Linked DNA regions of Homo sapiens: regions 2, 3 and 4 are each linked to region 1. Evidence: fine-mapped expression QTL. A gene starts in region 1. Each other region holds a variant in brackets. All regions are shown on one strand. Distances are between the middles of the regions.

Region 1 (7,702 bases):
AAAAAAAAAAAACTCTTTCATAAGTCTTTGATACATATTCCATCAAACACAGACTTGAATGAAAATTAACTTCAAAAGATGAGGTGGGGAGGAGAAGCCTTGCATTTTCCCTTCTTTCCAGGAGTGCTGTAACTTTAACTTGCAGCAGCGTAAATTAAGACATGCTTACCAGCTGTAAGGGAGAAAACTGATATCTGCCAGGCCGCACAGTCTCTAAAAGTGTATCCATTCCAGCATTTCATGTGCCCACTAAAAGTTTTCAGCAGGGTAAGTTCACACAAGCATTCCTCCCCTAGCAATTCATAGAAAGATTGCTGGGGAAAAGACACCCCGAGATTTCACCACATGGGTCACTTCCATTAAGTACAAATACTTCTTTTTCCAGGGACAGACACACTGCCCTCCCATTTTTTAGTTACTACAAAAATATGTTCCACCCTGTGTAACAGACCTACCATCCCAAAGTGGAAATATTACCTGAGCTGTGCCCTGCCCAACTGATAAATTTCCCTTCCCAACCATGTGCTGTATGAATATATATTTGTGGCCTGATTCAGGGCCACAGGACACTAGGGCTGCTGCTTTTCCCTGATAGATTAACAGAGGGACCCAGGCTGCATGCACATACATTATGATGACAGCCCCTCTCTATGGAAATGACAGTGGTAAAAAAATGACAACTGGGGCTGCCATTCTACCATTGCTGTAAACTCTTTAAATTTTTTCCATTTAGGGAAAGCGTTAAGTGCAAAGGGTATAACTTTGCTTTCAAAAATGATTCATGATGTTAGTGAACTGTTGGCAAATGGCATTCTGGTGCTAGATCTCAGCAGGGCTACTCCCTCACTCAGAGGTGTCCTTTTCGGTTTTTTTTCAATCCGTGAATCTCAAGGATTTCAAATAGTGTGAGCTGTTTGTATTTTAACAGCAATGGTAACAATAAAAATATCATTTTAAAATCCAGTGCACTGCTTGTTCAGTACATACTATATATATTCATCATTTCTTTGCCTTGTAGCTGGCTACTCAGAAACTAAAAAGTTGTAGGTTGATTTTCTGGTTTTGTTGTTTGTTGTTGCTGTTTGTTTGTTTCATTTAATCTCTCTTTGAAACATTTTCCAGACTTAAAAAGTAAAATTTCTGGAGTTTTAAAAGTTAAGACTGAAGTTATTGATTATTCTCTGAAAGGGTAACTGACAAACTAGTTAATAATTATACAGATAGCAAGTTTTACCGTTTCATCTTGTGTACACGACCAGATTAACAATGGCAGGGAAAGCACACACAACTTGGCAGGGACAGGAACAGGTGTGCCCCGACTCTCAAAAGGCCAAAATATCTCACCAAGTATGTCACTGGCGTGTTTTTTACAATGGCAGTAGTGTTTGTTTTTAACTAGCCAAACGTTCTTACTTTCTTAACTTTAGAGAGATGTACTTTACGAATATCTTTCTCTTCACGGAATTGATGATTCAGTTCCACACATAAATTGCAACTCGTGCAAGGAAATGATTTTTAGGGACAATGAGGCTTTTTAAAATCAGTTAAGAAAAGGTAATTCACCCTGCCCCTCCCCGCAGGAGAACACCCATTCAAGGGTCAGTTTCAAAGCTCCCAGGCGAAACCGTAAATAACTCACAGGGTTCTGCATTCAACCTGCAGACTCTTATTAAGGTACAATTAGAGAGGGGGTTGTCAGGTGGGGGTTAAAAAAAAAAAAAGAGCGGGGGGGAGTCGGTATTCTTTACCTTATCTTTCTGAACAGGAAAAAGAATTAAACCCAAACCACCTAGTCAGGTTCAAAACAAGCTCCAAACCCAAGATCTTTTAATTCCCTCTAATAACTGCTTTCCACAGGGATGTAACTGGGGTCCCCTACCCCTGGGGCACAAAAAACCAATCAGCGCCATAAATTCCCTTTGCCTTCAACCCTCTCTCCCTTTTACAGGGGGGCAGGGTAGGGGGAGGGGGTGACCCAACATCAACACTTACACTCTACAGAAATATGCTGGCTTATTTCCTTTGTTTGCTCATGTTATACTTGATCAAGTGTGAACGATTAAACTGGTTTCATTAAAGGCAAGTGCATTCACGGCTAACATCCAACTTCAATGGCAACTGTAAGCATATTTTGCAAGAAAGAGGGCCTGTTTTTTTGCTTGAAATCTACCATCTCATTAACTTTTCTTTTGGGGGCAATAAAAAGGGCACTAGGGGTTTTTCAGGAGAATGTCAGAGCAGTTCAGAGATCTGATGCCAGACAAAAGAATATTTAGCGTTTCAACTCTACGATACAGTCTCTGCTAAAGAAAAAAATTCTGTTTCAACATTAAAGCAGCTATGACTGAAAATGTCTAATTAGCATTTTGACTATTACTTTATAATTGCTGTAAGAAGTATCCTTTGAAATCAAGTGATTACAAAAACAAGATCCTTTAAAGTCTCATTACTTCAAAATAGAAAAGATTTATATTTAAAAAAAAAGGGGGGGGTTAAAAACCTCAGAATTCTCAAAGTACATGAAAACTACCCACTTCTACTTGGAAAACCCTCGAGGCAAAACAGCAATCTTAGGTACTGAACACGAGGTAATTTTTAAACTGTCTTCGAACCCAAACACCTAGTAGAGAAAGCTATCTTTTTTGAAAGGGTGGTATGAGTCGATATATTTCGCCCAAGTTAGAAAGGCAGAAAGAATCACTTTGTAAACTTCCCCAAAATATAACGTCCCCTCAAAATTATCCATGTCAGATAAAAATATACCAGTCTCTAGAATATCCAACAGAATTGCAAATAAGGCGTTTAGCATTTTAAATTCCCAATGCATATTTATAGAATAGAATTCTCTTGTCTATCCTTCCAGCCACTCGCATCAGACTCTCTAAGAACTTAACCCGATCTCCAATCTTTAAAGAAAAAAGGGGGTAAATACACAGAAGGATTGTTTACCCCGGACAGGGCAAGGAAGCCCGGTATGACGACGTAGGCCATTGCCAGCAGCCTCCACCACGAGCACGCAGAGCGGGGATTTCTACGAAAAATTCCTCCTCTTCCCTATAAAATCCTAAACGTGGGGTCCTCTGCAGCCAACTGCCGCTTGGGCCGCCTCCGGAAAAAGTACCGGGCGGGGGGAGGGGGGACAACCACAAACACTCGCGCGCACACGCTCACTCCGTGTCCGCGACCGTCGTCGCCGGCGGAAAGCGAGCCACGGGAGGGAGTGTGTGCGCGCGTGTGTGTCTCGGCGCGGCCCGCGGTGACCGAGCTGAGCTCTTGGGCCCGCGGCCTCCGAGCCCCAGGGCGCGGCGTGGGCTGCAGGCGACCCGCCACGCCGCTGGGCCTCCCGCGGGAGAAAGGCCCAGGCACGCCCCGGCTCCCGCGCGCCTCTGCCCAACTCGCCCGGGGCGCTGGGGGCAGCGCGAGGGAGAGAAAGAAAGGCGCTTCCCCTCGGCCGCGCGGGGCCGTCCGGCGCCGCGGAGGGCTGGGAGGAGGAGGAACCGCGGCGGCCCGGCTGTCCCTGCGCCGCACCGGGTCCCTGCCGCCCGGGGCGCGCCCTAGCCAGCCCCTCCTGCTAAACTTTTTCTTTTTGATTCGCCCCACCCGAAAAGTGCGGCCCGGGCGGGGAAGGTGGGGGAGGCGGGCGGGCCGGGCTCCCGGCGGCGGCGGGCGAGGAGGAAGTGGTGCCCGCGGGAGCGCGGCCGGGCAGAGGAAATGCCCGGCCCGCCCGGCCCCCGCCCGCGCCCGCCGCCCGGCCCGCCCAGGCCCCCCGCCCCGCCGCGACTTTGGCGGGCCGAGCCCCGCGCGGCAGTGGCGGCGGCGGCAGCGGCAGCAGATGTGGCCCGGCTGCCCGGAGGAGCCAACAATGCGGGGCCGGCAAAACAAAAGGGTTCCACTTCGCCTCCTTTCCCGTCTTTCACTTGCGCTCCCGGGGAGCCGCGCGGGATCCCCCGCCGGCAGGGGCAGCGCCCCTGGGGACCGAGAGCCGCTCACGCCCCGACTTCCCCACGGAACCCCTCTTCTCCGCGCCCCCCCCACCCTCGCCTCGTAGGCGCAAGGCCCGCCGCACCCCGGCGCGCTCGGACTCCTGTTCCCCGGAGATCCGGCCGTATTGTCCCCGCGGCGCGTCGCGCGCTCGGCCTGGGTCGCCGGCGGCCCCCGGGCGCGCACCCACCGGGCTCAGGGAGCAGGAGCCGGGGGCGCCCAGGGAACCGTCGCCGAGACGCCGCCGCCGCCGCCGCCGCTGCCCTCCGGACGCCGCCGCGCTCGGGGTTTCTTTTTTTTTTTTTTTCAACCCTGATGGGAAGGAAGGTGACCGCCTACTTCGCATTCATCAACTCTCATCACAACAACAAAAATCCTGGCGCAAACGGCGGCCAGCGGGCGCAATCGGTGGCGGGGGCGGGCGGGGACCCCCGAGCCAGCGTCCACCCCCGGGCGCCGAGGGGGGACACGAGGCCGGGGGCACGGACCAAAGATGTCCTCGGATGCCGGCTCCGCGTCCTTCGCCCTCTTCCTCCTCCTCCTCCTCCTCCCTGAGTGGCGCAGTGAGGCGCGGGCGCGGCGCCCCCAGCCCGCGGCCGCAGGTGAGGCGGGGGCGGCGGCGGCCCCAGCCCTCCCCCGGGGCCCCCCTTACCTCGTCCCGGACGGTCGGCGTCCACGGCGAAAGGCGCCCACCCTGGAGGCGGCGGCGGCGGCGTCTCCCGCCCCTCCCACCCCACCCGGCGGCGGTGGCGGTGGCGGCGGCTGTGCGGCCCCCCCTCAGCGCGGCATGGCTCCCGGTTCGGTCCCTCGCTCCTCGGGCCGCCGCCGGCTCCTCCGGGCCGCTCCCGAGCCACCTTAAAATGACACACGCACACAGGGACACACACACAAAAACTTAATCTCTCCAGCTCCCCGCCCCTCCCCCTCCCGCCCTCCCCACCCTCCCTCCGCTCCCCTCCCCTCCCCACCCTACCCCTCCCTTCCCTTCCACCTCCTCCCCTCGCCGCCGAGCCTCTTCCTACTTCCCCACCCACCCCACCCCCTTCCTCCGCCCACCCGGTTCCCAATTCCCCCCGCGTCCCGGCCCCGCGCCCTCCCGCCCGCCGAGAGGGGGCTGCGCTGGGGGTCCCCGGCCCGGGCCCGCCCCGCGCCGCGCTCACCCCCGAGAGGATGCTAATTCCAACTTGGATCGGGGGAGGGAACGTCCTGGATGCCGAGCGCCTCCCGGCTATTTGCTCTTCTTTATTTGTTTTCTCCTCCGGGGAAGGAGAAGGAAAACGGAGAGAAAAGGAAAGGAAAGAAGCGGCGCTGGCCGCAGCTCCCGGTACCCGCTGGCTGCGCAGGAGCTAGGCGGGAGGCGAGGTGAGGGTCGCCGCTCGCTCACTCCTCGCTCCTGTTTTTGGGGGGGGGGGGCAAAGGCGGGGTCTCTTTTTGCAAACCAATGACACAACCCCACATGGGCCGGCCTCGCCCCCTTCAGATACTCCTCACTACAAATCGGCTCTCTCGGGGGATTAGTGGCTCCGCGAAAGTGCACACAAGCGCGGCGGGCGGGAGGGCCAGGGGCCGGGCGCGGCGGGCACTCCCTAGCCCGGCCCCGCCCGGGAGGCCCTCGGGAGGCGCGGGGGCCTCGGTGGCAGGGGCCGAGGTCCTGTCGCGGTGGCTCGGGGTCCGCTGCTCCCCTGGCCCTTCATCCTCCTCCGCCCCTTCCACGTGGGGTACCGGGCAGCCGGCCACGTGGGGGAACGCGAGCCCCGGGTGGCCCCGGTCCCATGGGGCCCCGCCCAGCCAGCGGCGCCAACCAGCCCCCTTCCCGGCCCCCGGGCTCCAACTTCCTCCTGGTGCCCCGCACCGGCCGCTTCTGCCTTCTCAGGCCCGCGGGGTCAGGCGCGGGCCGGCCACAGGGGGCACTTGCGCTCCCCAAATCCAGATCCGGGAGACCGTGCCGGAGAGGCGGCGACCGCTGTGGGTGCGCAGGGAAGGGCCCTCTGTGCTGCAAGTTGCAGCAGTGCTGTGCCCTAAAAGAAGCAAAACATTCTTACACATTGAAAAAAAAAAAAAAGGTTCCCTCTTGCTGCCTGGATCTCGCCGGGGCATTTGAGAAGCCCTGTGTTGGGTCGGAGCCCCGGGTCTCGAGGAGGGAGGCGCGCTGCGGCGTGGGGGCCCGCGACTCGGGGTCCTGGGCTTGCGCGGCGGCCCGGAGCCCACGCCGTCCTGACGTCTCAAGGTTGGAGTCTGCACAGCGAGCCTGGGAATCCAGGCCCAGCGGCCGCTCGCGGCCCAACGAGCACCTGGGCTAAATTCCCCGCCCGTGACCCGCGACGTCCGAGCGCCGTCTCCGGAAGGGAGCTGGTGGCCGTGGAGTGTGGGGTCTTCTCCCTGCGCCCCAGGGCCCCCCAAACTCTTCTCACTACCCTGAGTTCGGCGTGCGTCCTCCAAGAATCCCTGGGTGGGCTGAACTGAGCCCTTAGGATCGATTTGTTTAAAAACCCTATTGAGATATTAGGAGCTGGATTGAGATGTCGAGCAGGAAAGGAGTGGGAGGGGTCTGAGGTCCCGCCTTTGGAGGCCGCAGGGACCGCCATTCCGCGAACCCAGCCGCGCGGTGTGGTCTCCTCCATCCCTGAGTGCCCCGCGCCCTGCAGAGCCGAGGAAACTTACAGCCAGGGCCAGGGGGCCGGAGGAGAGGCCACCGAGCTGCACGACCCTTTTCTGCATCCCAAAGAGCGTTGCTCCAGGCCTCCCAGTCTTCATTAAACATTTCTTAAATCCTGCCCCAGCCCGCCGCGGGGCTTGTTTGCCAAAGCGCACCAGGTGCGTTGCGGCCTGAGCGGCCTGCAGTGGAGGGGCCGGGACTATCGAAGATTGCTTAATCACTCAACAAGATTTTAAAACGTGATTGAAGACCGCCTACCTGTGAGGGCAGCGCCGACCAGGCTTTTCTTGCCCGCTAGTCCACGTAATGCGGTCGCTAAGAAGCCCGCAGCAGGGTTTTCGCGTGACCTTCATAGGGCCTGGCCAGGCCAGCTGAGGGGCGCGCCGGGCTGCGCTTCCATCGAGGAACCTCCGCACATGCAATCACGGTTGTCTCGTCTTCTGGCAACCCTGGATCTCCACAAACTGATCTTCAGGGTGCTTCTCTCTTCAGCAGTTTTGCCTCAAGGGCATGGCGCCTCAGCTAGTTTTTGGCTGTAAACAAACCGCGGCCACCGCCAGGCTACCGGGTTACCAGTACCTGTTCTTCGGAGTTTCTTAGGCATAAACTATAAGAACTACAAATAAAGATTTTCTGCTTCCTTATTTCACAGAAGTCTTTGGTTCTGAGTGGTCTTCTTTTCTCAGGAAGAAACCACAAAAAGCCTGATTTTCCATATCACTCCTTCACTTTCACGTGTTCTATAAATTTGAATTCTGACTTAGAAAGTATTACTAACATGTTCTTGGCCGGGCACGGTGGCTCACGCCTGTTATCCCAGCACTTTGGGAGGCCAAGGCGGGGCAGAACACGAAGTCAGGAGATCAAGACCATCCTGGCCAACATGGTGAAACCCCGTCTCTACTAAAAAAAAAAAAATACAAAAATTAGCTAGGCCTGGTGGCGCATGCCTGTAATCCCAGCTACTCGGGAGGCTGAGGCAGCAGAATCGCTTGAACCAGGGAGGTGGAGGTTGCAGTGAGCCAAGATTGCACCACTGCATTCCAGCCTGGGCGACAGAGCGAA
Region 2 (7,702 bases), 150 kb before region 1:
TCAAAGGACCACACAGCAAGCAGCTCTCTAGACAGGCCAGAGCCATCATATTAATCCTGACAGATTTCCTGGTGCTGCCAACAAGGTGAAGGGACAGCTGTGAGGACAGAGGGGCAGGGGTGACCCCAGGAAGGGCCCCAGTGGTCCTTCCCACAAGTCCAAGTACAAATTCTCTAGCAACTTCATCTGGACCAGCGCGGCTGCATCTAGACGTTCAGCAGGGTGGTGGAAGGCCTTACCTGCCACACTACAGACGCGCATGCTTGCGCCCCGTGCACATACAGGGCAGACACCCTGCGGGGCCCGCCCAGGATGCAGCGAGAGCCTCAGGGCCTCTTTTCTCTCTTTATTCTGTGCAGCAAACCCAGCAGGCTCCGAAGACCTCAGAGACAGAGAAGCAGCATTTTCTCCAACAAAAACTGCCCCCTTCAAATCCATCCTTGGATTTCGTAGGTCCTCCTGACCATCTGCCCAAACCTCACATCTTCAAGACCCACACCCTGGACACAAGAGAACAACTACCTGAGTTCCAGAGGTGCAATCCGCCGAGATGCCAGGAAGGGGCAATGTCTCTTGTCAAATTAGAACTCTTTAGCCTCAGATTAAAACTTTGGGGCTCATCAACTTTTCAGATATCCAGATCAACCCTGACGGCGGCCTTACATCCCCATCCCCTCCCTCCCTCTGAGGCTGGACGGTCCAGGCCATTGCTCCAGGCTGAGCCCAGCCTGGTGACCCACCATGGGTAACCCAACCAGGAAGGTGTGACATTCCCGGGATCACTGGCCTTTGAGCACAAGGCAGCAGGCTCAGGGTCCCACAGGCAAAAGCAGGAGCCTTCCACAAAGGCCAACTTCATCTGTGTGGCCTCGCCTTCCATCCCTAACCTCCTCAAGGGCTCTTAGTAGTCCCCAAGCTGGCCACTTGGTGGGGACGATGACTGGGACCCCAGCCACGGGGGGGCTCCTGCTGGACCACCAAGGCTCATATTCCGTTAGCCACACGCTCGGAGACGAGGAAGGAAATCCCCCTCCACTGGGGCCGTGACTGCATCCTGTTAAGACTATACACGGTGCTGGGGAGGGACGGCCCAGAGCACCTGCACCAGCCCTGCATGGAAGGCCGTGCTCGGCCAGTGGGACTTGGGATAATTGTCTCTTTGAGCACAAAGTACAAAAAAGGCTTTTGTCCCAGCCTCAGAAGAATGGGCTGGGGTAGCCAGGTCCACAGCCAGCCCCGCATGGCCCCCAAGCTAAGTGCAGTTCTCCTGCCACCCCCGGCTGGGAGAAATCATGGCCCCTCTCAGCCCTGAGCGGCAGCTGCACCTGACGCTCAGACACCAAAGGCACACGTGCACCCAGTCACTCCTGCTGCTGCCCCGACACCCAGGTCCCCAAACAGGGTGTCCGCATGGATCCGCACTCCAACATCCTTCTGCACCAGGAAAACAGGGCAGGGGAGGGGGAAAATAAGGCAGGGACGAGGGCCAACACCCCCGTGTCCTCACCAGCCCACGACCTGTATGAGTGGACAGGAAGCGTGCAGCACAAAGCTGGATACCCCCTCAGCTCATCCGCGAGATCCGCAACAGCACCGTCACCTGACGAGGAACCCGACACACATGGCTCCCACCTGGGCTCCTGTTTTCTGCTAAGAAAATGGTACAACTGCCAAATTCCACAAGATTCCTTCTGTTTCAGTACACTCTTCTGGCCCCTACTTGAGGTCTGAGCGCACAACCCTGTGGGGCCTGGAAGTCCTGGTCTCATGCCCCAGGCGGTCGCCCACACACAGTGAGGAACACCCCAACTTCACTTTCAGGGGTGCTGGCAGGATGGTTATCGGAGAGAGTGCCTGATTATAAGAAATCCAAGCTGTTCGTTAAATGGTAGCCACACAGGAAAACCACGCTGGGCGCAAGGTGGGAATCCAGAGCCGCTGATGCGTCTGGGGAGCCTGAGAGGCCATTGTCACAAGATGTCCATCCGCAGCATCATCAGTGCATGGATCCGTTACCAGGGTAACAAACTCCAGGTTGCCTAGCGATCGGCTCCCTCCCCGACACGGGTTGCCTTTCTCCTTGGTGAAACCCACCCTCTACCCTCCCTGATGGCCGGGCACGCAGAACGTGGCTGAGGCTGGCCCGAGACCTGTCCAAGGTCTGAGGCTCGAATCCTGGCAGCAGGTCCTTCATGGCAAGGCGGGAAAAGAGAAAAGCCAACGGGTTCTCATGCTGGGAAAAGATGCCGGGCACGACGGCTGGAGGTGGGGGGTTGGGAGTGGGTGGGATGCTTGCGTGCCCTGCATGAGGTGCAGGGATATGGAGGCCACAGGAGACCCCCAAGCCCTGGGCATGAGAGCTTAGCTGGGACAATGCCAAGGTTTGCTCTAGAAGGGAAAGCACCATCTTCCAAGTGCTCCTTCAGTCCCAGAAGGAAACTGTCCACCCACACACCAGAGAATCTGGACTGAAATTCAAGCCCTTGCCTAGCAGCCGCTGCCCTACAGGCTTGCTGGAGCCTGGGGCAGAGGTTTCTGGAAGAGCTCATATGGAAGATCTCATATGGAGAGATGAAGGTGCAAACAGATCCCCCATCTTACCTCACACAGGATTCCTGACGCCTCTTTCAGGCTTCTGACCATTTGAGCAAGTTTTTAACCTATTAGGATGTAACTGACACACAGAGTAAGATTCATATACATTAAGATGGAACACGACCCTTTCAGGGACGTGGGGTCCCCAGGCCCAGTGGGGCAGGATTGGGAATTTGCGAGGAGAAAGCCCAAGGCGCAGTACGTAATGAGGGCTTCCGAAGAACTGGGCTTTATGCTAAAAAGCCATGGCTTCCAGTTGCTATGCACAGCTGACGGCCTTTTCCATGCGTACAGACCACAAGGCTGACAAGAGTCCTGCAGTGCTGCTGTTCTTCCCACTTCACAGCCCGGGAGTCAGCGCTCAGGGTGGCCCCGTACCACGGTGCGCAACCACGAGGTATGAGGAGACACTTGCGGACGAGGGTCACAGGGCCCTGGTGCCCTCTATGCGCTATTTTTCCTTTCTACCGTCTCCCGCCAGTAAACCTGCCTTGTCCATTTCAGGACAATTCCAGCTGCAACTGGACACATCACGGAAATGACATCAGTGCCTTACTGTTGACAGCTTGCCCACATTAACTGTGTAGAGCAGAAAGCCCTGCCGGCTCCCCTGGTATCAATTACTATCTGGTTTCAGGCTTGCGTGTGCACCAGGACGGCCCTGCCCCTCCGTCCGGGATGTGCTGTGCACCAGCTCAAGGCAGTGCTGACGCCCATCCCTGGGCCTGGTATTGCTTAGAGCTGCAGCTGCAATAAATACTTGTGAAATGAGAGATGCTCAGTCAAAAACAAAGACAACACCAGGCCAAACTGCTGGACTTTTGTGAACAGTAACCAGACACCCAGGAAAAGCAAAGTGCGTGGATCTCACAGATCCTAAGGCAGGTAGATCTCAGGGAGGATGGCGGAAGGATCCGGAGCTGGAAAACGCTACATTTCATTGTGGGGAGCTGCTGCTTTCTCGGATACAGGCAGACAGGCCTGGAGTTGACCTTCTGGCTCAGTACCATGCAAGGCAAATGGGATGTTCCCCTGAGCAGTCACCAAGAAGGAACTGGATTGATCCTGCCACACAAAGCTGCCTGCAGTGTTTCTGAGACCCATTTTCCAGTCTTCCTAGACACTGTGTGAGCTAAGCCGACATCCTTCCAACAGAAATTCTCATTATTTAAAAATGATCTAAATGGGTTTCTGTTGCTTACAGCACAAGACAACCTGCCCCAGGGTAAAGGGTTTCAGGATTTGAGGCTTCTACCCCAAAGCAAAGCAGCTGCAAATGATCATTTCTGACATAGGAGGCAAAGGCTGGCTCTGGCTTTTTTTTTTTTGGAGACAGAGTTTCACTTTTGTTGCCCAGGCTGGAATGCAGTGGCACGATCTCCGCTCACTGCAACCTCCACCTCCCAGGTTCAAGTGATTCTCCTGCCTTAGCCTCCCAAATAGCTGAGACTACAGGCATGTGCCACCATGCCTGGCTAATTTTGTATTTTTAGCAGAGACAGGGTTTCGCGATGTTGGCCAGGCTGGCTTCGAACCCCTGACCTCAGGTGATCCACCTGCCTCGGTCTCCCAAAATGCTGGGATTACAGGCAATAAGCCACCGTGCCTGGCCGGCTCTGGCCTCTTTTTTTAAAACGCACTAGATTTTATGGAAGTTTCCTGACACCGTAGCAGTCTCAAGACACCAGTGCCTGAGTCACTCCCTGTTCCTGACAGGGGCTACGGCTGCCCAAGGACAGACACTGGCCACATACCCCAGGGTTGCCCCATGAAGTCCCTGCAGGTTGCAGTCTTAGAGCTGACCGAGCTATCACATTCATGAGAAGAACCGCTGCTCAGAGTCACAGTAGTGGCCTTGCAGGAGGGAGCCTCTGTGGAATGAGGGCAGTTGCTGGAATTTGCCGGGTGCC[G/A]TCACCAGCTGCCCTAACACAGATGTTGTAAGAAGTACCTGGATCCTTCCACAGACGGGAGATCCAGGCAGGTCTTCCAAAGATCCCGACAGAAGGTGTCAGAGTGCTGCAAGCAGCTCCGAGCTGTACAGAGTAAAGCAGAGGTTCCTCTTCAAAGACTTTCCTCCCCGTCTAATTAGGAATAAATACTAACTTCTCTTAGAGGCAAAATTTATTCAAAGATCTGTGCTAACATTCTTAAATATTTGCTAGCCGTAATAAGGAAATCAATGTACGTTATGTTCTTAGCTCCCGCAATTTAGCCTAAATATTTGCCTTAGCATGCTTATACTGGTCCAAGCAAGCATTAGGTCATAGCCTGTTCCTCTTCCTTATTTGAAGGTGTTTTTACCTTTCTCAACATTCCACAAGTTACTTCCTCCTTCCTTTGTTCCCCTCTACCTTTGCCTCTTTAAAAAAGTTCTAAGTTGCTAGCCAATCGGGACAAATAGAGAATGTGAGGTCCCTTTCCAGCCAACGGAAACTGGACACAGCGGTAGGGTGGACGTGTCAGGTTATAAATGACCCTGTGTCCTTTGTTGGGTGAACTCTCGTGGGAAAACTGCTGGAGAGTGTACCCTTTCTGCAGAAAGTAAAAATGGCCTTACTAAGTAAATTAAATTTATGTTCAAGTGCTATTTCTTTATGGCACCGGGGAACGAGCATTCCAAACAGAGCCAAGCGATTCACGGCTTCATCAGCCCCTGTGACCTGCAGGTGGCCTGGGAGGCAGGAGGAGCCTAAGCAGCCGGTGTGGCTCCCAGCCTCATGCACAATGATCCAGGAAGAAAGAGGAGACAAAACCACACAAACTCCAGAGGCCGGGGCGGGACAGGGAGTGACCCAACACAGCCGAACCTGAGGCCCCGCCTGCCTCCAAGGAAGCCCCACTTAATATCCCACCGATCCCACCACCCTCAGAAAAGCTTCCTCTTAAATGCGGCCTGCTCCCCAATTAAGTGGCCGCTTTCTGCAATCCAGCATGACCCGATCCCCACTGGCTGAGCTCAGCAGACCTGATTTCTAGAAAGCCAGACACAGAATCAGAACTAAGGCCTGCTAACAGTGTTATTTCAGAGGCTTGGGTTTCTACAACATAAAACTGAAAATCGTGACAGGGCCAAGCTGGGGGCCAGATTCTGATGCTGGGACGTACGCAAGTGCCTCTCAGACACTTGGCGTTAGACTTGTAAACACAGCTGCCTCAGTGGGTCTACAGGCCAGCCCAGCACACAGGGCTGTGGAGCTCTGAGTGGGGGAAGGCGGTCTGTGGGAGCCTCGTGTTGTCAAGGTAAGAGATGTCTCCCTTGCTTTGTAAACATGTTTAACCATGTTATAAAAGCTGTTCTAAACCGTCAGACGTGGGATCTAAACAACAACAAATGTTCTGCAGTTGGCTGATCTGGAAAGTGAGCAAGCCACGGTGACTCCCCCTCCTTGTGTCCCCAGCAGCCGGGAAGGTGCCTGTTCCCACGGCAGCTGCAGAGAAGACTGCGGGCAACAGGCATCTCCCCTCTGCCTTTCACGAGAAGGACCACAGGAGCAGGGTGCTGATGAGCGGGTGGCTCCGGGAGCAGCTTCAAGGCATAATTTGGAAGAAAATCTGTGTTGCTAAGAGTGGCACTATTTTAAGGTTAAAAAAAAAAAAAAAAAAAAAAAGCAACTGCTATTGGAAATCTCAGCTTTGTTTCTACGTTGTTATCTGCTTTTTCATTTGGCAAATGGGCTTTCTCTCTGTGTTGCTTCTGGGAAGCTCTCCCAATGCTGCGTCCACTTCTTTGCCCAGCTTCCCAGAGGCTGCGATTTCATTTTACAGTCTCAGTAATGTATAGGTAGTATGTGCTCCCCCAGAATGGAGAACCCAATCCTTGAGTTTTAAGTATCACCTGACACGCCCAACAGATTCCCTGGCTCATGTGCACACTCCTCCTCCCACCATGCAATGCAAATGCGCAACCCTTATCTCTCTTTCTGCATTCATGGCAGACATCACTAATCGATCCCCACATTCTTCCTGAAGCCAGGACCTCAGCCCTGGAGTGGCATCACACACACCAAGCTGTTGAAGACCTGGCCCAGCTGAAAATGATTTAACTCAACCTTGGACAAGGACTGGCCTGAACCAGGCACTGGAAGACAGCATGAGGAGAGAATGAGAGAGCAGCGTGGTACAAAATGAGTGCCGGGGAATTTAAAGCATGAAGCACACCTTCTAAACTTAGAAAGCGGTGATGGCTGTGCCATCACCGTGTACATCCTTAGCAGCTATAGGGATTATCCTTATTTTTCCTCCAGTGAGGTACAACCAGGTAGGAAAAAGCTCACAATCTGCAGCATATTCAGCCAGCCCACTCCTCACACTAAAAACGCCAGGATCTTAATCTTCCAAAGTTGGGCTCTTACTTGTGAACAATTTAAAAGGGTTTATGGCAAAGGTTTCATGTGAATTATCCCTCAAGTTCCCCCTGCTTTTCTGTAAGGAGGGAAAAAATCGAGTGTTGGGAAATCTAGCTTCACCAAGGCCTCTGAGCACCCAGGGGCTGTGCTGTTTGGGGTGCCCCACACCAAGTGGGCTCCCCAGAAGGCTGGATGTGCCCCATGGGGAACCTAGTTTTAAGCTACTCCTCGGCTTCTGAGTTTGGCATTCTCTGCAAAGTCAGCTGGAGGTTTGGTGAAGAAATGGCCACAGGAACACCCTGATAAATAGATTTGCTTCTTAAATAAAACATGTATCTGAATGAGTCACGATGTGACACATGAGAGGCTCCCAGGTAATCTCCCTTGTAGCTCAGGTGACAGCTGGACACAGAGCTGGCGAGGCAGGAGGCTCCAGGTACCCCTGTCTTTATCCAGCCAGTCAGGTGCAGTCTGATGCTCCCCAGAGCCTGGGCCATGTTCTCAGGCCCCCAAAAGCTTTCTGGGTGATCATGTTAATAACGAAGAGCATGTGTGGTATCTTCCAGGGTTGGAAAGAGATGTCCAGACCCACACCATCAAGTTCAGAAAAAACACAAAATACAAACCCCCCTGAAAACGAAGCTCATCTGCAACCCTAGAAAGACAAGCACGTGCAGTCACTTCAACGGGTTCCTCAGAGCCCCTGGGGAAGCTGCAGCCCGCACCCTGCAGTGTCCGCGCTATGCGGAACGGAGGAGCAC
Region 3 (7,702 bases), 200 kb before region 1:
TCAAGTGATCCACCTGCCTCGGCCTCCCAAAGTGTTGGGATTACAGGCGTGAGCCACTGCGCCTAGCCAGAATTTCCTTCCTTTTTGAGACTGAATAATATTTCATTGTATGTGTATACCACATTTTGTTTATCCTTTCCTCAGTTGATGAAAATATATTATTTCTTTTTCACCAAATTTAGACATTTGTACTGACTTCTTGTAACGATCTTTGATAGTTTAGTTCATTTTTGAATAATAAAGGCAGACAACTTGCGACTAGCATGTGCAACGTAGCGGGACCTCTTCTCTATTAAAAATAAAAAACTTAGCTGGGTGTGGTGGCAGGGTGCCTGTAGTCCCAGGTATGTGAGGCTGAGGTGGGAGGATTGCTTGAGGCAAGAGTTTGATGCTGCAGGGAGCTATGATCAGTCATTGCATTCTAGTCTAAGCGACAGAGCAAGGCTCCATCTCAAAGAAAAGCAGACTATATGCATTGTAGACTATTTCAGAGATAAGAAAAGCTATGAAAAAATAAAAATAGTTTGTAATCTCACTGCCTAGAGGAAGTCTGTCAGATTTTTTGTGTATTTTCAGTCTTTTTTTTTGCATTTATTTACTTTTACATAGTTGAGATTATATTGTATATCCTTTTTCATTGAACTTTATATTTTGAATCAACATGTTACCTTTTAAAAATGAATGTGTAATATGACATTGAATTGCTGCACCTTAAATTAACCTGTTCTTTATTAGCAACAGTTTGGGAGTCCCTGTGGAGCTGTCTTTGCTGATGTTTGTTGTTAAGAATGGCATGCTGTCTCATTTTATTAATCATTTGTATTTTTTTCTGTGAGTTGTTGATTCATGTCTTTTGTTCACTTTCGTTCACTTTCTTTGGTGATTTTATCAAGTTACATGAAATCTATATGAAAAATACACATCTCCAGTCCCAGTCTGGGCAACATAAAATCATTTTTGGCCTCGGCCTCCCCAAATTGCTGGGATTACAGCGGCGAGCCTTGGCACCTGGCCTCAGTTACTTTGAAAAATTGTCTTAGCTTTTACCTTTTCTTTGTTCATTCATTCATGCATTCAGGTACTCCCTGAGTGTGCTCCCAAGCACTTTGAAAGAAGTCATGTCTCTCAAAGAGTTTATAGGGCAAATAGAATTTAGCAAGCCAGGATAGCTCAGCAGAGGAAGTACAGGGTCCTAGAAGGAGCATAGAACCTAATCTCATTAGGAGATTTGGAGAGGACTTTTGGTGACATCTAAGCTGAAACTTGAAAGAGAAGAAGGAATAGTGTTTCTATTAGTGAGAATTTTATGTGTTAAAAATCCAGGGTGGAGAGACCAAGGCATGTCAAATAACCCGAGAGAAGTCAGTTGGTTGGAGTGTAGAATGAGGACTGTGAGAGAGAACCTGTAGGGAATATTGGGACTATTTAACCTGGTTAAATAGGTTAATTCCTTAACCTGGTTAAGGAATTTAGCTGTTAACCTGAGGGCAGTGGTAAACTTTTTTTTTTTTTCCCCCTGAGATGAGATCTCACTTTGTCACCCAGGCTGGGTGGAGTGCAGTGACATGATCACGGCTCACTGCAGCCTCAACCTTCTTGGGCTCAAGGGATCCTCTCACCTCAGTCTCCCAAGTAGCTGGGACTACAGGTGCATGCCAGCACGCCTGGCTTATTCTTTAAATTTTTTGTGGAGATTGGGTTTCTCCCAGGCTGGTCTTGAACTGCTGAGCTCAAGCAGTCTGCCCTCCTTGGGCTTCCAAAGTGCTCAGATTACAGGTGTGAGCCACTGCGCCCAGCCTAGTGGTCAACTTTTGAAAAGGGAATGCCGTAATTAAATTTGTAGTTTAAGAAGACCACACTCACCCTAGTGTAGAGGGAGCAACACTTGAGATGGCAGACCAGTAGAGTAAATGATAGCAACTTAGGTATAGCCAGGTATAGCTGGGGTAGAGTCAGTGGAGATGGGGAAAGGGAGATTTATTTGAAAAAGACTGAAGTAGAATTGGCAAAACTTGGAAGAATTGATACTGGGCTGAGATGAGGAGGAGTTTAGAAAGCCAGATTTTTGGTTTGGACATCTGGGTTGGCTAACAGTATCATTTTTCCTGGACATAGGAGAGGGAAAGTTTAGGTTTTTTAAGAGGTTTTGTGGTGAGGATGCCTGATGGATTATTGGATACATGGGGTCTGAAACTTTTGGGGATGGATGCTTGTGGGGCTGTGAGTGTCTACAGAAGCCATGAACTTTCTTTTTCAGTGGCAAATTATAGGAGCTTTCTTGTTTAGTGTTTCTAATTGGAGACCTTAGTAAGATTGACTGGGTTACTTTTGAACATTTCTTCCAATTTGATGATTTTCTGTCTTAATTCTGTCTACTTTTGTCTAGAAGAATTAAATGTATATAATATGAACAGTATAAAGTTATAATAAATTATGAAAGTTTTTCCTTTTATCCTTTCTTCCTTGCCCCTGCTTCGTTTTTTAAACAGAGACAGGGTCTCACTCTGTTACCCAGGTTGGAGTGCAATGGCGTGATCATAGCTCATTGCAGCCTCGAATTCCTGGGCTCAGGTGATCCTCACAAGTAGCTGGGACTACAGGCATGCGTCACTATGCCTGACTAATTTTAAAAAATTTTTGTAAAGATGAGATCTTACCATCTTGCCCAGGCTGGTCTTGAAATCCTGGGCTCTAAGCGATTCTCCTGCCTTGGCCTCCCAAAGTGCTGAGATTATAGGTGTGAACCACTGCACCCAGCCTCCCATTTCCACTTTTAAAATGTTCATTTACCCTCTAGTAAAAAAAAGGTGGGCTAGACTATTCAGTTTCTCTCGGCCTACCTGAGATATAGTGTAATTATAAAAATCTAAAATTTAGTTTCAAATTCAGCCAGGGTAACTTGGCAGTGTGGCAATTGAAATTTTTATTTTGAAGTCAGAAAAACCTTTGGATGTGATTTCAGTGGTGAATGTGGTTTTGGCATACACTATTTTATGAGTTTCAAAATCTACTTTTGGAACCTAAGAGTTTTTGTTTTGTTTTTTGTTTTTTTTTTTTAGACAGAGTTTCGCTCTTTGTTGTCCAGGCTGGAGTGCAGTGGCGCAATCTCGGCTCACTGCAACCTCCGCCACCTGGGTTCAAGCGATTCTCCTGCCTCAGCCTCCCGAGTAGCTGAGATGACAGGCGCACGCCCCCACGCCCGGCTAATTTTTTTTTGTATTTTGAGTAGAGACAGGGTTTCACCATGTTGGCCAGACTGGTCTTGAACTCCTGACCTCAGGTGTTCCACCCACCTCGGCCTCCCAAAGTGCTAGGATTACAGGCGTGAGCCACTGAGCCCAGCTGGAACCTAAGATTTTTAAGAACCGTAATTTCCTTTCAGTTGAATATTTTCAGTAATGTTTTAAGTGACTCATGATGTGAACTCATGTTCATCTGTTTCAGCCCTGTTAACATTTGTCCCCATCTCTGATCACTTGTCCCAAAGATAACTTTGTGGCATGTTTCCTTTAAGTCCTGCCATGTTGCTTTCAGCAGCAATTCTTCCTGCTTGGCAGGATCTTCTTTCTTACGAAGTTATCTGTTAGGTTAGGTATTTTTTCATGACTTTGGGGACTTATATTTTCACAAGAGTGGGTTGTTAACACTCTGATCAAAGATGTAAGGAGAAAAGAGCTCAGTAGTATAGACTATATTTGACATAGTTTGTCACAACTTACAGATAATTTAGAAAGCTTTAATTAGTGACTATTTGACTTCCTTCTCTCATTGAATCTTTTATTTTTCTAAAGAGGATGTTTTAGTAATGGACAGTGAGATTGTTGAATAGAAGCTAGTCTTGATATGTTATAGATTAAATTTAAGAATTTGTTTATAATTTTGATTTTCATCTGATTTTTTGAATAGGCTGTTGTTTTGTAGCACTGTTACTAGGAATAGAAATAGTGGATCTTAACTTGTTGCTATTATTATGTGGAAAATACAACCAGGAGGTGTTTTGGCCTGCTCAAATTATTTCTGAGATTGTTCCTGTGCTTTTGCCTACTTGAAGGTACACTTTAAAAAATATTGAAGTCATTTTATTTAAAAAACAGCTCATTAGTTTTGAAAGAGTTTGCTGTGAATATCTCCAGGTTCAGGATTAAACTATAGCCAAATGCTTATG[A/G]TATAAAAAAGTATTACTGGGTGGTATAGTTTCCTTTTAATATGAAAACCGGTTAAATGAGTTAAACTCTGGCTAGAGGAAAACCACATCTGCATCTTTCTCTGACCATGGTAAAGGACATTCTGAACATTACCACTTAAAACTAACTTTTCTCTTTAAGGGTTCCTGAAATTGTGCCAGCCGACTCCAGGTCCACCCTGACCCCACAGCATAAACCATGCTGTGATGTCACAGCTACCATAGAACTCCAGGGTAGTGTTGGGCTGGCCCATGTGGGCTCAGGTAAGTCCTGGCTTTTTTTTTACCATTTGGCATTCTTTTCAAAGTTAATAACCATTATAATTTTATGTCATAAAGGAAAATAAGGCAAAACTTTGAAAACTGTGCCATATATGGGGGAAAAAATAAGTCTGTTTTCTAAATATCTATGAGCCAGCTCTAAATTCTAACCAGTGGAGTTCCATAGTAGCTGTGAAGTCCCCAGTGAGTCATTGACCTGTGGCTTCAAAATACGTAAACTGTACTCCTGGCCCAGCTTACGGAATAATATATGTTTGCTTTTTATTTTTTTTAACGGTTTAGCTAGTAATATATAATATAGTGGCTTTCATTCTTAGGCCTTCATGTTTTAAGAAGTGTATTAACACTTTATCTGTAATTATGTTTCACTATTAGGCTAATTGTGCATTTCATTCAATTTTGAATGTATGGTGATACTACAGATTAGTTTTATAAAATTAATCGTCCCAGAGTGGCTTCAGCTGTCCTTTTATTTGTCTTCATGAAGGAGAAAGGGACAGAAGGCATAATACACGTTTGTTAAATTTTCAAAAAAAGTACTAAGAGAAAGATGCTTTGGCTGGGCGTGGTGGCTCACGCCTGTAATCCCAGCACTTTGGGAGGCCGAGGTGGGTGGATCACCTGAGGTCAGGAGTTCGAGATCAACCTGATCAATATGGTGAAACCCCGTCTCTACTAAAAATACAAAAATTAGCTAGGTGTGGTGGTGTGCGCCAGTAGTCCCAGCTGCTCAGGAGGCTGAGACAGGAGAATTGCTTGAACTCGGAAGGTGGAGGTTGCAGTGAGCTAAGATCGCGTCACTGCATTCCAGCCTGGGTGACAGAGCAAGACTCTGTCTCAAAAAAAAAAAAAAAAAAAAAAAATGCTTCAGTTACTCTTGGAGGCATTGTGAGATGTCAGTAACCTAGAAAACATGTATATGTTGATTATCTTCTCTTGGAACTTTTCATTTTTTCCTGGCCTTTCTCCCATAAAGTGAGATTTTAACACTTGCATTTATTTGTCTTTCCCTGTCTACCAACTCTTCTACCTTATTCTTACGTTCTTTTTATCCCCTGACATTAAAAGGTGCTCAAAGTGTAATTATGTGAAGAACTCAGATATTGTAAGGTTTTTTTTTTTTGTTTGTTTTTTTTTTTTTTTTTTTTTTTGGGCATGTATTATGATGCTTTTTCCCTGCACTTCACTTTAAGTAGAAAACATGCGGTGGCTAAAACTTTAAATTATATGCGTATGGGCCAAATCCTGTTGAACCAACCACGTCTACAACAAAAACGTGTCTATGAAGTAATGTCTAAACTTTCAGAAGTTCTCTTTGAGCAGTGTGCAATAAAGACGTAGCAAAAATTGGGACAGTTCAGTGACATTTTCATGAAATTTGATTTGTAATTTACTAATCTTTGTAGCTGAAAATGTGCAATTCTTAATGAAAAGAATGAAATTACGTATTCCCCAAACACTAGATAATAAAATAATTTTCTTTTAGATATTATTTTTTACCTATATTTAAGTGATGTGTGTTTTTCATGCTCTGGGAAGTTTGGAGAATTTCGTGCTGTCAAAAACTGAGAATAGTCTGTTCTCCTCATCTTCTGTATGTCTGCCATGCTGGGGAATGGGCAGTATGCCCGTTTGTAGTTTAATGCAGAGCATGGAGTAGGAGGGACTAATTAAGTGTTTTTGATAATTTTGTATTAGGTCAAATAGAAATCCTAGTTGTGTTTGTGTATATCGGCTTTATTGAGACATAATTTCACATACCATGCATTTCAACATTGTAAGTTCTGGTTATATTTTTAAAAAGCACTTAATGAAAGCAGAATTGGTGATATTATTGTACATTATAGTTCCAAAGTACAGTCTGCTGATTTTGTTGTGCTATGTAGTCTGCACCCCACCCCCCAGTGCTCATTAACTTCTAATTACAGAAATCTCTCAGAGACATTAGAGAGGAAATCTTAAGAATTTCTAAGATGAGATTCTTCTAGACTTCAGCTATATGGTGAGTTAGCTAAAAACAATAAAGCGATTTGAAGATCTCCCCTTCTTCCAAGCAAAAGAAGGAAGTTATTTGGTGCTTAGCTTTAGATTACCTCATCTCTGTCTTTGAGAAATAAGAAATAAACATGAACACATATAGTACAAAACACCTACATACATGCATACACGTATATACACATAAATTGTACAGATCTTCCTCTTTGCTTTTTCAGCTAAATTGATCAGACTCTTGGGTTGTTTTTGGAAGTGTTTGGAACATTTTTTATGTAATACGAAAAAATTTGTAAGTAGATAATATTTTTAGATTAGAACTAAAGACTATAAAAGGTGCCTTGATGCTATGTATACCTGAGAATAGTCAAGGGCTTTGATAGGTCTGAAGGGAAAGGTCGTTGCCTTCATACAGAAATGCTATGAAGTGAAAGGAGATGGTGTGGGCATGGTCAGTCCTAAATAAAATAAAACTGCATTGAATTATCTTAAAAGTTATGGGCCCTACCAGACTATACTTAATTGTTCATTAAATAATTTAAGCAGAAGTTTCAGAGTTCTTTCTGTATTTGAACATAATAATTGGAAACAGAAAACTCTTCGATCATAGAGTTGTTTTTAGTTCAAGTAGCACTTTCTGGTCTATTTGAAAGGCTTGCCCCTTTGGGAAGATTTATAGCCTTTATCTCATGCCATCCTTGATTAAGCTTTAGCTTTGACTTCTCTAGGGTACACTGTTCCTCAGAAGGATGTGTAAGGTGGGTGGAGGTGGGGCATTTGTAGCTGAACTTGTATATGCATGGTGAGGAATTTATCAAGCTACATTGCTGTGAAAATAAGAATTCCTGTAAGAAGGCATTCTTAATATAATGGGTTTTCAACCTGAAGAATGTATATGTCTGTGTTCGGGGCAGGGGGTCATTTTTTTGAGGAGAGGATCGAAATTTGCAGAAAGGACTGTTTTGAATATTGGAGTCATGTTTTCACTGTCTTTGTACTTCTCATATTGCCTGGCAAGGCGTTCCTGTATATGATGAGGATTCAGTAAATGTGGGAATTATTTTGAAGCCTTGTTATCTTTACTAATGGTAGAAAATTGTTGCATTTTATCAATCTGTTATATTCTAAGGAATATGTCTGATCTAATTCCTAGTTCAAGATGGCAATTAAAATACTCTTTTAAAAGTACACTAAGAATATTTTTTTACCTAGTATTAGTGTTCTGTCCAGCAAACACATTTGTCT
Region 4 (7,702 bases), 270 kb before region 1:
AGAAATTCAAGACCAGCCTGGCCAACATGGTGAAACCACATCTCTACTAAAAATACCAAAATTAACCAGGCATGGTGGTGTGCACCTGTAGTCCCAGCTACTCGGGTGGCTGAAGCAGGAGAATTGCTTGAACCCGGAGGTTGCAGTGAGCCGAGATTGTGCCACTGCACTCCAGCCTGGGCGACAGAGCAAGACTCTGTCTCAAAAAAAAAAAAAAAAAAAGAAGAAGAAGAATATGAACTGTGTAATATTATACAATGTTCCTTGGTGACCATATGCAACTGTTGTGAAATGTACACTAATCTGTGAATGCCTCCCAAGCCCAAATTCAAACATGAGGAGAAGAAATGCAGGGACCCAGGACTACTGGGAAATAATATTTCCATGAGTAAGAATCGGTTGTATTTATGCTATTTGACGATTTGACAAATTGAACAACCTGTCTTTCTCTGGCCTAAGGTCTTCCCTTGGCTAAATCGTCTCTGCTCTCTGAAGCAGTGCCTGACTCCAATGCTGGGAGCACCACAACCCACAAATCTCCAGGATGACCAGACAAGGTCACCTTCTGTTCAAGGTCAGGGGCCAGGCCTTGCGGAGAAGCATCTCTCCAGGCCTGACACATCCTAGTCCTGGCTGGTGGTGTTTACAGTGCTGACTTGTGCTGGGCCAATGCTGAGTACAGGATCCCACGGGGCCAAAACACCCCGGTGCTCCTCAATACATGTGTTTCATGTGTATGTTTGTCACGTATAAGGCTCATGGAAAGGGCCTCTCATGCCTGGGTGTAAAGGGAAAGACTTTTCTGTAAGCGCAAAAATGCAGCCCTGTTTCCTGCAGGGAGTAGAGTGGCAGACACTGAGCAGCATCTGCTAGGTTCCAGGCCCTGTGCTAAGCCCACTTTCCTTGCTTACTCCCTTTTCTTCCCTCTCCCTCTCCCTGCCCATCCCCCGCAACCTGCTTTTTTTTTTTTTTTGAGACAGAGTCTTGCTCTGTCACCCAGGTTGGAGTGCAGTGGCACACTGCAACCTCCTCCTCCCGGCTTCAAGCGATTCTCCTGCCTCAGCCTCCCAAGTAGCTGGAATTACAGCAGTGCATCACTATGCCTGACTAATTTTTGTTTTTTTAGTAGAGACTGGGTTTCACCATGTTGACCAGGCTGGTCTCAAACTCCTGACCTCAAGTGATCCACTTGCCTCGGCCTCCCAAAGTGCTGGGATTACAGGTGCAAGCCACCGCACCCGACCTTTTTTTTTTTTTTTTTTTTTGAGATGGAGTGTCGCTGTAATGCTCAGGCTGGAGTGCAGTGGCACGATCTCAGCTCACTGCAACCTCTGCCTCCTGGGTTTAAGCAATTCTTGAGCCTCAGTCCCCCAAGTAGCTGGAACTACAGGCGTGCCACACCAACATGCCTGGCTAATTTTTTTTTTTTTTTTTTGTATTTTCAGTAGAGATGGGGTTTTGCTATGTTGGCCAGGCTGGTCTCAAACTCCTGACCTCAGGTGATCTGCCCACCTCGGCCTCCCAAAGTGCTGGGAGTACAGGTGTCAGCCACTGCCCTGGCCCATCTCTCCCTTTATGCTTCCCTCCCTCCCTTCCTTCCTTGAAAAGGAACCACATTGACCAGGCGCAGTGGCTCACACCTGTAATCCCAACACTTTGGGAGGCCGAAGCGGGTGGATCGCCTGAGGTCAGGAGTTCGAGACCAGCCTGACCAATGTGTTGAAACCCTGTCTCTACTAGAAATACAAAAAAATTAGCCGGGCATGGTGGTGTGTGCCTGTAGTCCCAGCTACTCAGCTGAGGCAGGAGAATTGCTTGAACCCAGGAGGCGGAGGTTGCAGTGAGCTGTGATAGCTCTACTGCATTCTAGCCTGGGTGACAGAGCGACACTCCATCTAAAAAAAAAAAAAAAAGAAAGAAAGAAAGAAAAAAAACACATGCAAATAGTACCATATTGCATTCCCTGCACCGTAACACACCCAGGGCAGGACTACGGGAGTGCCCTGGCTGAGAGGAGGGAATGGCTTCAGGAGAACCCAGAGCTCCTGGGATTTTGTAGGGAGGAGAGACGTGGGGACACAGGACTCTGGAGCTTGTCCCAGGATGAAGCTCAGCTCCGAGGATGGTTTATTCCCTTTGCCATGGCTGCCTAGGCTCTCTGACTCTTAGACTGCTGGGGTAAGGGTGGCAAAAATGTATCCTTTAAAGACAAATTCAGGGCACTCAACAAATTGAATGTAAGAACTTTGTACGATGCTCACCATTTCTCTTATGCCCAGAAGACTGATATCATGGTTACCTAACATGCGTCTTTAAAAAAAAATGATTTTTTTCCTTGCCAGAATCTAATGGCGATGCCACCTCTGAAGCCCATGGGACCTGTAGTCAGGCCCAGCTTAGTCTCTCTGTGGTCAGACTCCTTATCTGTCAATGGGTGCTGACTGCCAGGAGCGGCAGGAATTCTGTGAGCTGGCCTCTGTGAGGGTAGCCAGCTCGGCATGCATCGGCAGCTCAGGGGACGTCAGCTCCCTTCCTCCTTCTTTTGTGAGTAAGGAGAAAGAAACAAACCTATATGTGCCTGTGTGAGAGTGTGTGTGTGTGTGTGTGTGTACGCACAGGTACATGCACACTCTTTGCAGGGTGTACTCATTTGCCAGGACTGCTGTAACAAACTCCCATACACGAAGGGCTGAAATCAATAGAAAGAAACTGAACTCTCACATTTCTGGGTTTTTTTGTTTGTTTGTTTGTTTTGTTTTGTTTTGTTTTGAGGCAAGCTCTTGCTCTGTCACTCAGGCTGGAGTGCAGTGGTGCAATCACAGCTCCCTGCAGCCTCGACCTCCCAGGCTCGAGTGATCCTCCTATCTCAGCCTCCCGAATAGCTAAGACTAGAGGTGCATACCATCATGCCCAACTAATTTTTTTTTCTTAGTAGAGACCAGATCTCACTATGTTGCCCAGGCTGGTCTCAAACCCCTGAGCCCAAGTTATCCTCCTGCCTCGGCCTCCCAAGGTGCTGGGATTACAGGTATGAGCCACCATACCCGGCCACTCTCACATTTCTGGTGGCTAAAAATCAGCAGGCAAGGTGTTAGCAGGGCTGTGCCTCCTCCAGAGGCTCTAGGAAGGGAGCCCTCTTTGCCTCTTCCAAGCTTTTGGTGTTTGCCAGTAATCCTTGCTGTTCCTTGGCTTGTAGACACATCACTCCAAACTCTACCTCCGTTGTCACCTGGCCTTCTTCCCTGTGTCTTCTTTGTGTCCTTTCCTCTCCTTATAAGGAATCTGGTCATGCTGGATTTAGGGCTCACCCTAAAACAGTATGAGCTCATCTTATGATTGCACCTATAAAGACTCTATCTCCAAATAAGGTCACACTCTGAAGTTCCAGGTGACACTATCAACCCAGTCAGTGTGCAGGTTTAAGGCAGAAAGCTAAGACTGTATTGTGAGATGCATCCCAAATTCAAATACATTAAACGTGAAAAAATGTACATCTTAAACTCCATGACATATGCCTCTTACACAAACACACTCACACATATGATTCAACAATGTAAGTGAAAAAATGTGTTCTCAAAAGTGGCCACTATAATCTTTTGGTGGGATCCCCAGTTAAGGTGCCTCAACTTTGATGACCCAAAGATACTCACATTCTCCAGAACTGTTGACATTTCTGGAAAAGGCTTTACTCAGGAGGAAGCGGATCTTGTGAAATTGCTAGAATCTGGCTTAGTTCATTAAATTGGGAGATAATGGTGGTGAAAATGCTTTGCAAGCAGTCAAATGTGATACAAATCAAGGTCAATGTAC[A/G]TGTGGGTGTACCCACTTTATGCCCTTAGGGAGGGTCATCCATTCCACACACATACACATAAACACACACACACAAAGAGATCATTTGAGGTCAGGAGTTCAAGACCAGCCTGACCAACAGACTCTACTAAAAATACAAAAAAAAAAAAAAAAATTTAGCCAGGCATAGTGGCACATGCTTTTAATCCCAGCTACTCAGAAGGCTGAGGCAGGAGAATTGCTTGAACCCAGCAGGCACAGGTTAAAGTGAGCCGAGATCGTGCCACTGCACTCCAGCCTGGGCGACAGAGCGAGACTGTTCTCTCTCAAAAAAAAAAAAAAAAAAAAAAAACGAAAAAAAGGCCGGGTGCGGTGGCTCACGCCTGTAATCCCAGCACTTTGGGAGGCTGAGGTGGGTGGATCACGAGGTCAGGAGATTGAGACCACCCTGGCTAACACGGTGAAACCCCGTCTCTACTAAAAAAAATACAAAAAAATTAGCCGGGCGAGGTGGTGGACACCTGTAGTCCCATCTACTCGGGAGGCTGAGGCAGGAGAATGGTGTGAACCCAGGAGGCGGAGCTTGCAGTGAGCCGAGATCGTGCCACCGCACTCCAGCCTGGGCGACAGAGTGAGACTCCGTCCCGAAAAAAAAAATCCTTTATCACTGGGGTAAAAGGGCAATTCCTCTGGGCTCATAAACACAAACTTCGTTGTTCATCAGGGGATCCATCAGCTCCCTCTGGGTTTATCTGCCTTAGAGCCCTACACAAGTTTCTCACATGGAGGGTTTTCGTTTTTATTTTGAGACAGGGTCTCATTCTGTCACCACAGTTGGAGTGCAGTGGTGCCATCACTGCCTACTGCAGCCTCAACCTCGTAGGCTCCTGTGATCCTCCCACCTCAGCCTCCCGAGGAGCTGGAACTACAGACATGCACTACCACACCAGGTTAATTTTGTATTTTTTGTAGGAGTTTTGTCGTGTTGCCCAGGCTGGTCTCGAATTTCTGGGCTCAATTGATCCATCTGCCTTGGCCTCCCAAAGTGCTGGAATTACAGGCATGAGCCACCGTGCCAGGCCCCACATGTACGCTTAATCTATGGAAAGAGAAGCTCTGTGATTTGGTCACGGCGTCATATACTATAGAATTGTGCATATTTTGCACTGAGTCAGTCATTTCAAAAGGAGTTGATAGAACTTTATGCCTGGAAGGGAATTTATTCATGATCTCATCTACCCCTCCCACCTTTAAAAAAAACAAAAGAGGCCTAGAGAGAAGTGGCTGGCCGGCCCATGTGCAGAGAAGGAGCTGGAAGCAGTTTGGGCTGAGGAGGCCCTGAAGGAGATTCTCTGAGGCTCGGCCCTGTGGTCCCCTTTCTCCATCACGCTGCTGAGGTTGGGGCACACACGTTCTCGTTTAGTCTTCACAACAACCCTATGAGGTGAGTGTATTATTATCCCCATTTTACGGATGAGTAAACAGAGGCCACCTGAGGCAATGTCTGGCTCAATACCACAGCTGGTGTTATACAGGTGACCCTGGAGCCACCACGCTGTCCTGCTGCCGAGGCAGAAACAGTGGAGAGGCAGGGGCACCCCATTAGGAGCCTCTCCACTCCCCATCCCCAGCATAAAATTTCAAAATAAACCAACTGTCTTTATAATACATAAAAGTAATCAATAAAGAGAATGTTCTGGAGCTTATGAAAGTGGGACAGGAATTGCAGGGTATGGAGAGGAAAGTTGTCATGTTGCTTCAGGGACAGAGGCATAATTAGGGGGGTCCAGAGGACAATGCCTCCTGCTCTGTGGATGTGGAGGCCACAGCCCTGTCTTTTCTGCTTTCAGAGTAGCTGACATCCATCATCTAGCAATGTTCCATTCCAGTAACTATATTTAAATTTAGCCATTGCTCCAGATGAAGATTCACTCTGATAGTAGCACCAGCGGTAGGGCAAGAGGCTGACTTCCCATGACCGAAAAATGAACCAGATCCTTTGTGCTCCAGAATTTTTTTTTTTTTTTGAGACAGAGTCTTGCTCTGTTTCCCAGGCTGGAGTGCAGTGGCGTGATCTCGGCTCACTACAAGCTCTGCCTCCCGAGTTCGCGCCATTCTCCTGCCTCAGCCTCCCAAGTAGCTGGGACTACAGGCGCCCACCACCACGCCTGGCTAATTTTTTGTATTTTTAGTAGAGACGGGGTTTCACCATGTTAGCCAGGATGGTCTTGATCTCCTGACCTCGTGATCCACCTGCCTTGGCCTCCCAAAGTGCTGGGATTACAGGCTTGAGCCACCATGCCCGGCTTTTTTTTTTCTTTTTTCAGATAGAGTCTCGCTTTATCGCCCAGGCTGGAGTGCAGTGGCACAATCTTGGCTCACTGGGTTTGAGCGATTCTCCTGCCTCAGCCTCCTAAGTAGCTGGGATTACAGGCATGTGCCACCACGTCTGGCTAATTTTTGTATTTTTTGTAGAAATGGGTTTTCACCATGTTGGTCAGGCTGGTCTTGAACTCCTGACCTCAGGTGATCTGCCCAGCTTGGGGGAGAATCTCTTAAAGTGCTGGGATTACAGGCGTGAGCCAATGTGCCCAGCCCAGGAATTTTTTCCCAAGACATCACAGTTCTTTCACACCAGTATCTTCTCCTACTCAGCTGGCTACTCACTGCTTATTATCTAAAGATACAGTAATGATTTTTACTGAATGAAACTAAGGAAACAATGTGGGGGAATTATGTATCGTGTGTTGGAATTATGAAACCATATTCCATGTAGGGATAATTTCTCTGTTGTATTCTGGAAGTTTTCTAGCACTCAATTGGAAACCATAGAGTATGGTGTACGAAGCTTTTGCTACAGAATCTCTTAAAATACAGACATGTCTCATGTTTTTCCTTTTCCACTTTTTCACCTCTCTAGCTGATTGATTTTCAGATTAAAACAAAATTCTAAAACTCCTTTCACAAAGCACAGACTAAAGCAGCAATTTGGAAAGGGAAATTATTTTGATTAAGGTTGACAAACAATCTGTAATGACATTGCTATTAGCAACCTTTTTTTCTGGATGAAATATTACATGCAAACCACATTTTAGAACTGGGAGTGAATTTAGCAATTAAAGTCACCATCATTTTAAAGCCTGCTCATGTGGTTAGTTATATATTTGGTATTTTTATGTACTGGGTATTACTAATCAGGCACATATTCTCAAATAGTGACAACGAAGTACAATATTCAAGGGAACATTATACAGACACGAATCAACCCCCTACACTGAGAGTTTGTAAGTACTCTGCAGATGTAAGTTCTTGGTTTTTTATCCACTAAGCTGATTACCTAGCACAGATTCTGTTTGACCTCAAAATCCGCCAAGCAACAGAAGGCTGCCCCTGTAGCCTGCTGTGTCTGGGAGGGGACAGGGACAGTTTCCTCAGGGAATGCACTGGAAATGTTATTGTTAGACTAACCAAACTTCATAGCTCCTGTAAAAGTACCTTTGTAAAAATTCCCCTCTTTATCTGCCCTTCCCTGATAACCCTGCTGGGGTTTCTCTCTCTCATATTGAACGAAAAGCCTACCACAGGCTTTTTGTTTGTTTTTTACTTTCAGAGATAGAAATATATTTACAGACAAAATGATAGGATGTCTGAGATTTACCTCAAAATAATTTGGGAAGGTGGAGAAGCAGATGGAGAGAAAACTGAAGCCGGGCTGGCCACAAGTTGATCATTGTTGAGACTAAGAGATGGCACCAGGAGTTCGCTATGATTAGAATACTTTGGGGCTGGGCGCAGTGGCTCATGCCTGTAATCTCAGCACTTTGGGAGGCTGAGGTGGGTGGATCACTTGAGGTCAGGAGTTCGAGACCAGCCTGGCCAACATGGAGACACCCCATCGCTACGAAAAATACAA

Alleles and levels. Positions count from the first base shown, and alleles are read on the strand shown. Sizes are in standard deviations (SD) of each study's normalised expression. Not every link is listed here.
For the expression in cerebral cortex of the gene that starts at base 4,878 in region 1, G is the high allele of the variant in region 3 and A is the other (small effect, 0.25 SD a copy in GTEx).
With allele G in place of A in region 4, the expression in nucleus accumbens of the gene that starts at base 4,878 in region 1 is higher (small effect, 0.17 SD a copy in GTEx).

Evidence for each region. PIP is the estimated chance that this variant, and not a neighbour inherited with it, causes the effect.
Region 2: its variant is the best candidate, but not a certain one, in a credible set for the expression of CTBP2 in whole blood (INTERVAL, PIP 0.59).
Region 3: its variant is the best candidate, but not a certain one, in a credible set for the expression of CTBP2 in cerebral cortex (GTEx, PIP 0.59).
Region 4: its variant is the best candidate, but not a certain one, in a credible set for the expression of CTBP2 in nucleus accumbens (GTEx, PIP 0.51).

Annotation. Positions count from the first base shown.
Region 1 is chr10:125,155,686-125,163,387 of GRCh38, forward strand. CTBP2 (C-terminal binding protein 2) reads right to left here and starts at 4,878. Exons shown (of 11, transcript NM_001329.4): 1 at 4,634-4,878. RefSeq lists an enhancer at 5,649-6,258.
Region 2 is chr10:125,004,040-125,011,741 of GRCh38, forward strand. All of the region lies in intron 3 of CTBP2 (C-terminal binding protein 2), which reads right to left. Among named protein-coding and RNA genes, the nearest start is that of MIR4296, 25 kb to the right of the region's middle. RefSeq lists an enhancer at 3,813-4,318. The variant G/A (reference allele first, on the strand shown) is at 4,506.
Region 3 is chr10:124,957,962-124,965,663 of GRCh38, forward strand. The region is part of intron 1 of ZRANB1 (zinc finger RANBP2-type containing 1); the gene reads left to right. Among named protein-coding and RNA genes, the nearest start is that of ZRANB1, 20 kb to the left of the region's middle. The variant A/G (reference allele first, on the strand shown) is at 4,166.
Region 4 is chr10:124,889,781-124,897,482 of GRCh38, forward strand. No RefSeq gene overlaps it. Among named protein-coding and RNA genes, the nearest start is that of ZRANB1, 48 kb to the right of the region's middle. The variant A/G (reference allele first, on the strand shown) is at 3,811.